Linked DNA regions of Homo sapiens: all the other regions are linked to region 1. Evidence: fine-mapped expression QTL. A gene starts in region 1. Each other region holds a variant in brackets. All regions are shown on one strand. Distances are between the middles of the regions.

Region 1 (4,164 bases):
TTAGTAGAGACGGCGTTTCACCATGTTGGCCAGGCTGGTCTTGAACGCCTGACCTCAGGTGATCCACCCGCCTCCGGCCTCCCAAAGTGCTGGGATTACAGGCGTGAGCCACTGCACCCGCGCCCCCGCCCCCACCCCCTCCCCCCCAGATGTTCTTATTCTCTGCCTTCTGTTTTCCAAAATCCTCCTTTCCCCTGAAGGTGACCTGAACAAGATGCGGTTGGGCAGTGCTGGGTGAAGCAGCCACATGTGTGTACTGCTCACCTGCAGAGCTGTAGGCTGTACCTGCAGTATGCAGAGGAGTCCTTCTAATTTTGCTCTCTGTCTTCCAGGCACCTGGGCAAACAGTGAGCAGGTACTGGAGGATCAGAGGGTCGCCTTCTCGACTGGCAATGTGGAAACTGTTCCAGCCATCTTTGTTCTTCAGGAGTGGATTGGCGCCATGTTCCACCAGCTCCTGGATCACCCCCAGGTTCTTCCTTGTGCAGGCCATCATCAGAGGAGTCCTAAGGCCAACCAGGAGAAGCTGTCAGATGGAGGCAGCTGAGACATTAGAAGCCAGGGGCCAGGTCTTCAAAACACACACATCCTTGGCACAGATGGAAAACCTAGAGGATTCAGGGGTCTGGCAGGCAGGAAAACAGCTTTGACCGGCAACCTCTGTGCCTTCTGTGAGGACCCTGGGAGAAATAATAAGGGGAAAATGATTGTAACGAACGTGTACCTAGAGGAGAGGGTGCCTGGGAGACAAAGCAGCTTATAAGCTAGTTCACAGGATAGCAGTGAATTGGAGCAGAGCTAAGAAAACCCACAGACAACCCTCAACACATAACGAAGTCTATTCCCCTGCCCCAGTGGGGAAGATGTACTTCCCTATGTTCCTAAAGATGTTCACGCCCTCTAACGAACCTGACCTAGTGAGTACTAAAATCAGTGTCAATCTAACAAACGAAATGCAATTGGCTTGTGTGATGGTGGAGCAGAGTATCTCTGACTGTGGTGGTTATGCAAGGCTGCACGTATGTGATACAACTGCACTGTGCTCTACACACACGAGCGCGTGTATAACTCAGGAATTCTGGATATTGATTGGAGCAATGCCACTTGAAACAATGCATTGGTGCAGAAGTAACTTAGCTAAATGTCCCCAGAACATCGCATCCGGAGGCTATCTGTATAGTGCACACACTTCATTGTTTGGTAACATTCTCTTTGGTTATATTCTACACTATTCCGTGCTCTAGAAAGGGAGGTGACTGCCCCGACCAGTTAACCCACAAGGGCAGGAACGAGGGACTCTGCAGGTCATCTGCGTTATAAGGGAAAGTTGGGCAGGAGGTCCCTGCCGCTGAGCAGGCCTGGGGTGAGAACTAGGAGCTGAGAACAGCTACGGTGTCCAAGGGGACGGAGAAGCACAGGGAACTCGCTACGACTCTGCGAGTAGAGGGGAGGCGGGGTGTCTTTCCGCTCCACACCTACCAGTCGGCCTTCTTCAGGCAGTCGACCGCTGCCCCCCGGCCCAGCAGGTAGCGCACGCAGTCTCGGTGGCCCATGGAGGCCGCCTCGTGCAGAGGCCGCTTGTAGTCTCGGTTGGTGGCCTCGATGTCCATGCCCCAGGCCTCGGCCAGATAGGCCAGCACGTCCCGATGCCCGTGGCGCGCGGCGCAGTGCAGGAGGGTATCCCCGGCCGGCCCCGGGCAGCCCCCGGCCGCCTGCAGCTCCTCCTTCAGGGCGCGCAGCCGGCCCTCCTGCACCAGCCTGCAGAGGCGCCGCGGGTCCCCGGGCTGGGCCATCGCCGCGGGTCGGGCCGGGCTGCGCGGGGAGGCGGCGGGCGGGACACCGGCGGCCGGGCAGGGAGAAGCCGAGGGCGAGTGGGACTTTCCGCCTCTTCACGCAACCTGCCCCGCGCGCCCCGAACCCGGCAGAACCGCCCCTCACGCCCCCGGCTTTGTCCCCGGCAGAGCCGCCTCCTCAAACCCCCGGCCTAGTCCGCAGGCGGGCTGCCCCCTCACAGCCCCGGCCTGCCCCGCGTGGGAGAAGCCGCGGTTCCGGGCACGGGGCGGTTTTTCCTCAGGGACGGAGCGGTCCGGGATGAGCACGGAGGGGCCTGGGGATCCGAGAGCGCTGGCGTCCGCCGTCCTGGAGCTGCAGCGGCCCGTACGTGATTCGGGACTGAACACGTAAGGGAGTGGGGCGCGCCGCTACACCGCAAAGCCCCAAAGTGGAGGGTCCGGGAGGGCGCGCACAGCCTCGCCCGGCGCCGTGCAGGGTGGCTCCTGAGGCAGCCAGGCCCAAGCGTGACCTGCCCCGCACGCGTCCTCAGGGCCGCCCCAGCCTCCAGCCCCTGGGGGCCGGCGTTCCTGGGCTCCGCCCCCGTCCCCGCCCCTCGACCGCCGCTGCTCCGCGGGGACTCGGGGAGCTCGAAGGAACTCTGGGAAAGTTTCCCGCTCCGCCCCGGCCCGAGCGGAAGCGCGGATGGGGCGTGGCCCGGTAGCTGTGGCCGCGCCCCCACCGATTGCGCATTTCGATTGGCGTTAGTGGCCGTCCGTCAGCACGCCCCCTCCGGTCTCGCGTCCCGATTGGTCGCGGGGGCCGTCAGTCCGGCTCCGGCGGCGGGCGCTTCCCGGGGCTGCGGCGGGGCGGAGCTCGCGGAGGAAGTCGGCGGGCGTCTCGGGCTCCAGGTCCCGGCCAGAGGAGGAGCTCGCTGCCGGGGGACGCTGGGCTGAGCGGCCGGCGGCGCGGGCCCGGCGGCGGCGGCAGCGGGGTCCGGGTCCGGAGCGCCACAGTGCGTGAGGCCGCAGACGTGGCAGGGAGTGTGGGAGGGGCTCCGCCGTGTGGAAAACTTAACCTCCGGGGTCCTGCGCGGGGGGTCCGGGCCCGGGGTGGGGCAGCGGGGGCCCCGGGGGCGCGAGGCTGGGCTCGGGCAAGCGCGGGCGTGGGGGCTCGGCCGTCCGGGCCGTGGGCAGGTGGAGGGCGCGGCGGGGGTGCGCGGGGGAGGCCAGGGCGCTCACTGAACTCGGTCGGGAGCGGCCCCCGCGCTGCCCCCCGAGGCCAGGAAGGCGCAGCGTGTGGGTCCTCGGGGCTGAAGGGGCAAGCGCGGGGACGTGGCCTCGGCTGCTAGGAGGCCAGGCTTTCCCGTCTACTCTGACGTTTTGACCTTGGGCAAGTCATTTTTCGCTGCCCTCTGCCCCTGTGTCATCGGTAGCTTCTCTGCCCCTCCTCTGAGCATGGGAAGCCTAAGGCGATGTGGGAGGCCTGGCGCTGGTGGAGGGCACGGCGAGAGCTGGGCAGGCTGTGGGTGATGGAAGAGATCAGTAGGTGTTGGGTTCCTTACCCGATCTGATTAGGTGCCAGTCACTTAACCTCTCCATGTTTTCGATTCCTTTAGGGAGTAGAATGGGAGTAGCTCCTATTTGCCAGGCCTAAAAACGAGTGCCGTTTACATTTTTTATTGCAGTCTGTGGTCCGAAGACAACCCTATGAGGCATCAGTAGGGTTTTACAGGTGGGGAAGTGGAGGCCTAACCAAGTCAGTGACTTTCTTACAGAATTACAGGTAATAAAGTCTTCTGGAAGGCAGGATGGTAGCATGTGTTGAGTGTCCGCCAGCGTCTGCCGCTGTGGTAAAATGAGCGGAGATAAATGAAAAGACTTCTGGAATGGGCCCATGAAGATAAGTCCGTTTTACTCATGAGCAGATTGAGTTTGGTTAAGGTAACAGTGATGTGGATAGCCTCTGGAGACAGAACTAGTCCAAGTACCAGCTTTGCTCAGGTTATTGTTCTGTCGTGCCTTGTCACTCCAGCAAAAGAAAAAAAGGAAGGCATAAAAGTTGTTTGAAATGCACAAAAGTGTAGGGCGTGCCAAGCAGTGTTCTGCTGCCGTTGAAGTTAGTGCAAATTGGAAGTTGAGGCATCTGGTAGCTTCATGCTTTTTGCTTTTACCCCTGCCCCTCTCCCAGTTTCAGATGACTATCTTCTCTTGCATTATGTCTCTAGTTTCCCTGTTTTTTAAACATAATTGGGACACACGGGTTCACAGTAGGTTGGAATATATATATATATTTTGAGACAGAGTCTCGCTCTGTTGCTCCGGGTGGAGTGCAGTGGCACGATCTCGGCTCACTGCAACCTCCCCCTCCCGGGTTCAAGCAATTCTCCTGCCT
Region 2 (4,164 bases), 20 kb before region 1:
CCATCTATACCATTTCTAAGATAATATGGACTGAACGAGGTTTTATTAATAGCAAAGAAAAATTAAAATCCCAAACTTATAAGGTTTTCAACAAAAGTAAAGTTTGCTAAAATTTAACAGTGTAACATGTATTATCCTAACCTCTAATCTTATGGAAATCAGACCCTATCAGCGCCCCTCAAAGCTCAAGTCCATCAGTGCAGAGCCATCCACTAATACCCCTACTTATAGGGTTAGGAATGGCCACTGCTACAGGAACCGGAATAGCCAGTTTATCTACTTCATTATCCTACTACCACACACTCTCAAAGGATTTCTCAGACAGCTTGCAAGAAATAACAAAATCTATCCAGTAAGGATAGTAACTACGATCCCAAATAGACTCTTTGGCAGCAGCGACTCTCCAAAACTGCCGAGGCTTGGACCTCCTCACTGCTGAGAAAGGAGGACTTTGCACCTTCTTAGGGGAAGAGTGTTGCTTTTACACTAACCAGGCAGGGATAGTACGAGATGCCGCCTGGCGTTTACAGGAAAAGGCTTCTGAAATCAGACAACGCCTTTCAAACTCTTATACCAACCTCTGGAGTTGGGTGACATGACTTCTCCCCTTTCTAGGTCCCGTGACATCCATCTTGCTATTACTCACCTTTGGGCCCTGTATTTTTAACCTCTTTGTCAAATTTGTTTCCTCTAGGATCGAGGCCATCAAGCTACAGATGGTCTTACAAATGGAACCCCAAATGAGCTCAACTAACTTCTACTGAGGACCCCTGGACCAAACTGCTGGCCCTTTGACTGGCCTAAAGAGTTCCCCTCTAGAGGACACTACAACTGCAGGGACCCTTCTTTGCCCCTATCCAGCAGGAAGTAGCTAGAATGGTCATCACCCAATTCCCAGTAGCAGTTGGGGTGTTCCGTTTAGAGGGTGGGTTGAGAGGTGAAGCCAGCTGGATTTCCTGGATCAAGTGGGGACTTGGAGAACTTTTCTGTCTAGCTAAAGGACTGTAAATGCACCAATCAGCACTCTATAAAAATGCACCAATCAGCGCTCTGTGTCTAGCTAAAGGATTGTAAACACACCAATCAGCACTCTGTAAAATGGACCAATCAGCAGGATGTGGGTGGGGACAAGTAAGGGAATAAAAGCTGGCCACCCCCAGCCAGCAGCGGCAACCCACTCGGGTCCCCTTCCACGCTGTGGAAGCTTTGTTCTTTTGCTCTTCATAACAAATCTTGCTGCTACTCACTCTTTGGGCCCACGCCACCCTTAAGAGCTGTAACATTCACTGCGAGGGTCTGCGGCTTCATTCCTTAAGTCAGCAAGACCACGAACCCACCAGGAGGAACAAACAACTCTGAATGTACCATCTTTAAGATCATAACACTCACCGCAAGGTCTGTGGCTTCATTCTTGAAGTCAGCAAGACCAAGAACCCACCAGAAGGAATAAATTCTGGACACAATACCACAAAAAGACAAAGAAAGCAAAGGTGCGGGAAGAAACTTTTGGACAAGTTTGTCCAACCTGTGGCCCAGGTGGCTTTGAATGTGGCCCAACACAAATTTGTAAATTTTCTTAAAACATTGAGATGTTTTGCGATTTTTTTTTTTAAAGCTCATCAGCTATCTTTAGTGATAGTGTAGTTTATGTGTGGCCCAAGACAATCATTCTTCTTCCAATGTGGCCCAAGGGAGACAAAAGATTAGATACCCTGCTTTTGGAGGCGAGGGATGTGTTTATTGCCTTGGCCGTGGTGATAGTTTCCTGGGAGCACAAATATGTCTGAATTAATCAAACTGTATATATCAAGGATGTGCAGCTTTGTGTACCAATTATACCTCAGTAAAACCATTACAAAA[A/C]GGAAAAGAACAAAGGAAATGCAAATTCCTAGAGTCCACCCTGGACCTACAGGCCCAGCTCTCTGGGGCTGCCCAGCCACCTGTGTCCAGCAAGGTGGGGGCCTGAGAAGCACTGCCCAGGCCTTTGCTCCCCTAATGGACTATTTCACCCTTCCCTAACTCGTCAGACCTCCCATACCACATCCTCACTCTCAGCTGATCACCTGCTTTCCTATTTCACTGAGAAGTCGAAGCACCTAGAAGACAGCTTGGTGTTTCCCAGCACCAAGGGCCCCAGCTCCTGCTCAGCACCCTTCTGCTCAGCTTTCCCTCTTGAGGCTGGGGAGGAACCGGCAGGGTGAACGCGAGTATTTCTCCTCATGCACAAGAAGCTACTCAATGCAGCAGCTATGGCCGCCCCTGGGAACTAGCTGGAAGCAGCTGGGGGTTGCTGGGGGGAGGGGTGGGTGGGTGGGAATCTGCATCTTTAATAGTTTCTAATTTCAACTTTTATTTTAAATACAGGGGGTACATGTGCAGGTTTGTTACCTGGGTATATCGCGTGATGCTGAGGTCTGCAGTAAGGATCGCATCACTTAGCATGGTATCCAGTAGGTAGTTTTTTTGACTGGCCCCCGCACCCCTGGACTCTCTCCCTCTGAGAATCTGCATTTTTCTTTTTTTCAGGATCCCTAGGTTTGAAGGAATCTGCATTTTAACAAGACTCTAGTTGCTTCGTACAGACATTAGACTCATTCCTCCTCCTCACTTTCTGTTGGACCATTCTCTCAGCAATCTGTAAACTGTAATCTGCTCCATTAAAAAAACCAAAACATCGATCCACATCCCTCTCCACTGCTTCATTTGCAAGCTCCAGGTTCTGCCTTCCCATTCTCTCTCAAACCTGCTCTGATCTTTGTCCAGCTCCTCACCGACCCCTTCACGGAGGCCCCCAGTGCACCTGCGCAGTGAGGTCAGCTTCGCAGGGGCCCCCAGTGCACCCGCACAGTGAGGTCAGCGTTGGCTCTTGGCCTCTCTTCCCTGCGACTCTGCCCGGGCACCAGCCAGTCCTCATTCCCTCCCTACTGCTTTTTTTTTTTTTTTTTGAAACAGGGTTTTGCTCTGTCACCCAGGCTGGAATACAAAAGTGCAATCATAGCTCACTGCAGCCTTGACCTCCTGGGCTCAAGGAATTCTCCCACCTCAGCTTCCTTGGTAGCTGGGACTACAGGCACACCACGCCCAGCTAATTTTTTGTATTTTTTGTAGAGGCAGGGTCTCACCATGTTGTCCAGGCTGGTCTCAAGCCATCTGCCCGCCTTGGCCTCCCAAAGTGTTGGGATTACAGGCGTGAGCCACGTGCCTGGCCATTGCTATTTTTAAAATGTTGTTTCAATTACCCCCAGGGTGTCACTCCCCTTCAGGATGCTTTGGGCCTTCCAGAGTAGGAAGAGTAACAAGAGACCTGGTTCACCTGTGGTGAAGCCAGGAGAGGTGTCATGTTGGTTGAAATGCCTGCAGAACCCTCCTGTTGCTGTGCTCAGGCCAGAAGCTGCACAGAGCATGGGCCGATAAATGCATCCACTCCCCGTGCTTTCCCAGGAGCGCCCAGGCCTGTCCTCAGTATCAAGTCAATCACATTTTCAGCATGGTAGGAGGAGGCAGGTTCTGCAAATGCTGCAGGGTGGGTTAATCACACAGGCCAATCAAGTCCCTGTCGTCACCACGATTGGCAGAGGCCAGCCCTCACTCCCATCTTGTTTCCTTCTCAGTAAAAATCATGTCACGCAGCCAGGCTTGGTGGTTCACGCCTGTAATCCCAGCACTTTGGGAGGCCAAGGTGGGCGGATCACCTGAGGTTGGGAGTTCGAGACCAGCCTGACCAACATGGAGAAACCCTGTCTCTACTAAAAATAGAAAAATTAGCCAGGTGTGGAGGCGCACGCCTGTAATCCCAGCTACTCAGGAGGCTGAGGCAGGAGAATCGCTTGAACCCGGGAGGCAGAGGTTGCTGTGAGCCGAGATTGAGCCATTGCACTCTAGCCTGGGCGACAGAGCTAGACTCCAACTCAAATAAATAAATAAATAAATAAATAAATAAATAAATAAATATCACACCACATCACTCTTTCCAACTGAAAGAGTGTAATTTAAAAAAGTGTAAAAACTGCCAAATGTAAGTCCACATTATTATCCATTCTTGTAGGAAACGTAATAAATGTGCTCCACAAATCCCCCACCCTCCTAGATACTGGCATTGAATGAGGCGCCCACGTGGGCTCTGCCCTGAACTTTTCTTCCTTCTTGCCCTTCTTCTTTCCTTCA
Region 3 (4,164 bases), 34 kb before region 1:
TAAAGCAGATGTGATAACCACTACACTATGGAACCACAGGCTAGCTGAGTTTCAAAGCTAGACTATGAGGCCATGAGGCTGGGCACAGTGGCTCACACATGTAATCCGAGCACTTTGGGAGGCCAAGGTGGGTAGATCACCTGAGGTCAGGAGTTCGAGACCAGCCTGGGCAACATGGCAAAACTCCGTCTCTACTAAAAATACAAAAAAAATTAGCCAAGCGTGGTGGCATGTGTCTGTAGTTCCAGCTACTTGGAAGGTTGAGGCAGGAGAATTGCTTGAACCAGGGAGGCAGAGGTTGCAGTGAGCTGAGGTCGTGCCACTGCACTCTAGCCCGGGCAACAGAGCGAGACCCTGTCTCAAAAAAATAAATAAATAAATAAATACATAAATAAAGTTAGGCTATGACAGGCAATATGGCCTTGCCTGGCGCTCCCTCCCTCTCTCTCAGCTCACACCAGCCCACATGGAGAGACCGAGGGAGAGGCCCATGTGAGGAGGAACTGAGGTCGTCAGCCAGCAGCATCTGCCAGACATGGGTGATTTCAGCCTTCAAATCTTCCAGCTGCAATCCCCAGTCCCTGGGAGCAGAGACAAGCCATCGCTGCTGGACCCTGTCTGAATTCCTATACATAGAATCCATGAGCATAACAAAGGGCTGCTTTACACGGCTAGATTTGGGGGTAATTTGCTGTGCAGCCACAGTACCTGGAACAAGAGGACAATGGCTGGAGTTGCCTAGTGGCTGTCGGTGGGCTTGTTGAAAGTGGACCTATTTGAGATGCTGAATAGAAATTGAATTAACAAGATGTAGTCATGAAAGGGACAGAAAATGTCTTAATTATAAAAAAATTATAAAGACCCAGCCAGGCGTGATGGCTCATGCCTGTAATGCACTTTGGGAGGCGGAAGCGGGCGGATCACCTGAGGTAGGGAGTTTGAGATCAGCCTGACCAACATGGTGAAACCCCGTCTCTACTGAAAATACAAAATCAGCTGTGCGTGGTGGCGGGCACCTGTAATCCCAGCTACTCAGGAGGCTGAGGCACGAGAATTGCTTGAACCCAGGAGGCAGAGGTTGCAGTGAGCCGAGATTGTGTCATTGCACTCCAACCTGGGCAACAAGAGTGAAACTCCGTCTCAAAAAAAAAAAAAATAAATAAACAAATATAAAGATACAAACCAGGCACGGTGGCTTACGCCTGTAATTCCAGCACTTTGGAAGCTGAGGTGGGTGGATTGCTTGAAGCCAGGAGTTTGAGACCAGCCTGTCCAACATGGTGAAACCCCGTCTCTACTAAAAATACAAAAATTAGCCAGGTGTGGTGGCACACACCTGAGTGTGTGTGTACCAGCTTCTCAGGAGGCGGAGGCATGAGAATGGCTTGAACCCAGGAGGCGGAGGTTGCAGTGAACCGAGGTCATGCCACTGCACTTCCATCCCCAGGGAGGGAAGGAGCAAAAGAAAACTAGGAAAAGGGGCTAAAAATGGTGCTTGTCTCACTGCTTTCTTCAGTTGAGCTCTTCTTGGTCTTGTGCTGGTAACTTGATGATTTTCATTCGCCTTTGACGACTCAGCCCATTAAGCCAAAGAGGCTCACCTGGTGCTACTCAGCCTGGGTGACAGAGGGAGACTATGTCTCAAAAAAAACAAAAAACAAAAAATACAAATAAAGATATGAAGGAAGGCCCAGTTAGAATACATTTTTGAAAATACTTCTTTACATTTTTAATGACGCATGCATTTCATATTGAGAGCTTCATTCTTTCGGTTTAATAATTTGATCCTTGTTAAAATGCAGACAATTGGCTGGGCATGGTGGCTCATATCTTTGGGAGGCTGAGGTGAGCAGATCACTTGAGCCCAGGAGTTTGAGACCAGCCTGGGCAACATGGTGAAACCCTGTCTCTACTAAAAAAAATACAAAAAAATAATTAGCTAGGTGTGGTGGTGCCTGCCTGTGGTCCCAGCTACTTGGGAGCCTGAGGTAGGAAGATCGCTTGAACTCAGGAGTCAGAGGCTGCAGTAAGCCGGGATCACACCCCTGCACTCCAGCCTGACAGTGAAATCCTGTCTCAAAAAAAAAAAAATGCAGACAACTCAAGGATTGATAAAATTTGAAATTTTTTCATTAACACCTTAGCATGAATGAAGACTGAAACCTAGTTTTCTTTTTGATAAAGACAATGGAGGCGTCCAAGGGCTAAGGACATACATCCCCAGGGAGGGAAAGAGAAAGAGAAAAAGTAGGAAAAGGGGCTAAAAATGGTGTTTGTCTCA[C/G]TGCTTTCTTCAGTTGAGCTCTTCTTGGTCTTGTGCTGCTAACTTGATGATTTTCATTCGCCTTTGACGACTCAGCCCATTAAGCCAAAGAGGCTCACCTGGTGCGACTGTTACTCACAATGGCTCACACGTGTTGGGTGCACGTGCTGGGCCAAGCATCATGCACGCTGTAAGGTATATAGATGTGATTTGGTCAAGGTAGAGACCGAGGCGGATATACAGGCCTGCACGGCTCAGTGAGTTTGGTGCGCAGGCGCACACCTCCGCTTGTTACATAACCTGTTTGTGTAAGTTCATACTTGGCTCTGAGCCACTATTGTCTGTAAAAGGTATAACTGCCCTGCTGACGCCGTACAGGTGCTTTTGAGGCTCAGCTTGGCTCGACATGGCTTGATGTGGTGGGTGCGCTGGCGCCCAGAGAAAGGGAGACAGCCAAAGCTGTCCATCTTGTAGACAGACAGGAGGGAGCCAGGACACAGCTCTGCTTGCTTGTGCCAGAGAAAGAAAGAGTTAAGCTGCTGACCCTGAAGGCAAGGGAGAGCCGGGGGTCACAGGAGCCACAGAGCCAAAGCAAATAGCAGAGATAAAGGTGGACAGGGTGAGAGAGCTAATGTGAGTAAGCTGCTAATAAAAAGCCATTGATGAGAACTGCTGCTGAATAAAACCATATTCACCTGCCTAGGCCCCCTGCACCAAAGCGTTTCTGCTCATCCACCCCACTCACCTTGGACTTCAGCATGGGCTGGACCTGGACCGGGGTCTGACACACACCAACTCGGTTAATCCTCACAGTAAACCTGGGAAGGAGGTGCCATTTTGCCCATCGTTTACCAGGACACTGAGAGGCAGGGAGTGTGACCTGCATGAGGTCACTTGGAGCATCACTGTAGGGGACTAACACCCTACACGGCTATGCGGCCTTGTTCTCTGCTCCGAATGCCATCTTCACAGATTGTTCTCATGTCCCTTACAACTGCGTATCTATAAATAAGTGGATTTGCTCTCTGGTCTCTAAGACTTTAAAAGCTAAGGTTAAGGAGTGTGTGTGTTAGGGGAAGGGTGGGGACAGCAGCAAAGACTTGCACAGATAATTGTCCCCAAATAGTCTCAATGAAGGCACCTCTGATAAGGGCATATGGCAAAGCCCTGAACCATCCCTAAATTTCAATTTTCTTCTAGCAGTCATATGACTGATCTATGGTCAGGAGGATGTGAACAGAAATGATCTACATGCCTTCTGAAAAAAAGGGGGCATGCATAGCCTCCCTTTCATTCTTTTTTCTTTTATATATTTTTTTTATTTTATTTTTTTCGAGACAGGGTCTCACTCTGTCTCCCAGGCTGGAGTGCAGAGATGCAATCTCAGCTCACTGTAATCTCTGCCTCCCGGGTTCAGGCGATTCTCCTGCCTCAACCTCCCAAGTAGCTGGGAGTACAGGTGTGTGCCACCATGCCCAGCTAATTTTTGTTTGTTTGTTTTGAGATGGAGTTTCGCTCTTGTTGCCCAGGCTGGAGTGCAATGGCACGATCTCGGCTCACTGCAACCTCCGCCTCCCAGGTTCAGGAGATTCTCCTGCCTCAGCCTCCCGAGTAGCTGGGACTACAGGCATGTGCCACCATGCCCGGCTAATTTTGTATTTTTAGTAGAGATGGGGTTTTTCCATGTTGGTCAGGCTGCTCTCCAAGTCCCGACCTCAGCTGATCCACCCATCTCACCCTCCCAGAGTGCTGGGATTACAGGCAGGAGCCACGGTGCCCAGCCTAATTTTTGTATTTTTAGTAGAGGCAGGGTTTCACCATGTTGGCCAGGCTGGTCTCGAACTTCTGGCCTCAAGTGATCCACCTGCCTCAGCCTCCCAGAGTGCTGGGATTACAGGTGTGAG

What was found. PIP is the estimated chance that this variant, and not a neighbour inherited with it, causes the effect. A credible set is the group of variants that fine-mapping cannot tell apart.
Region 2: its variant is the best candidate, but not a certain one, in a credible set for the expression of ANKRD16 in whole blood (INTERVAL, PIP 0.85).
Region 3: its variant is the best candidate, but not a certain one, in a credible set for the expression of ANKRD16 in whole blood (TOPMed, PIP 0.67).

Annotation. Positions count from the first base shown.
Region 1 is chr10:5,887,562-5,891,725 of GRCh38, forward strand. It overlaps ANKRD16 (ankyrin repeat domain 16), which reads right to left and starts at 2,332. Exons shown (of 8, transcript NM_019046.3): 1 at 1,480-2,332; 2 at 286-506. The coding sequence starts at 1,793. FBH1 (F-box DNA helicase 1) reads left to right here and starts at 2,682. Exons shown (of 21, transcript NM_178150.3): 1 at 2,682-2,785. The coding sequence starts at 2,785. RefSeq lists silencers at 1,615-1,894, 1,905-2,014, 2,155-2,874, 3,065-3,114.
Region 2 is chr10:5,867,477-5,871,640 of GRCh38, forward strand. All of the region lies in intron 7 of ANKRD16 (ankyrin repeat domain 16), which reads right to left. Among named protein-coding and RNA genes, the nearest start is that of TRV-TAC3-1, 16 kb to the left of the region's middle. The variant A/C (reference allele first, on the strand shown) is at 1,861.
Region 3 is chr10:5,853,749-5,857,912 of GRCh38, forward strand. It overlaps TRV-TAC3-1 (tRNA-Val (anticodon TAC) 3-1), which reads right to left and starts at 35; the gene lies at 1-35. RefSeq lists a silencer at 1-84. The variant C/G (reference allele first, on the strand shown) is at 2,282.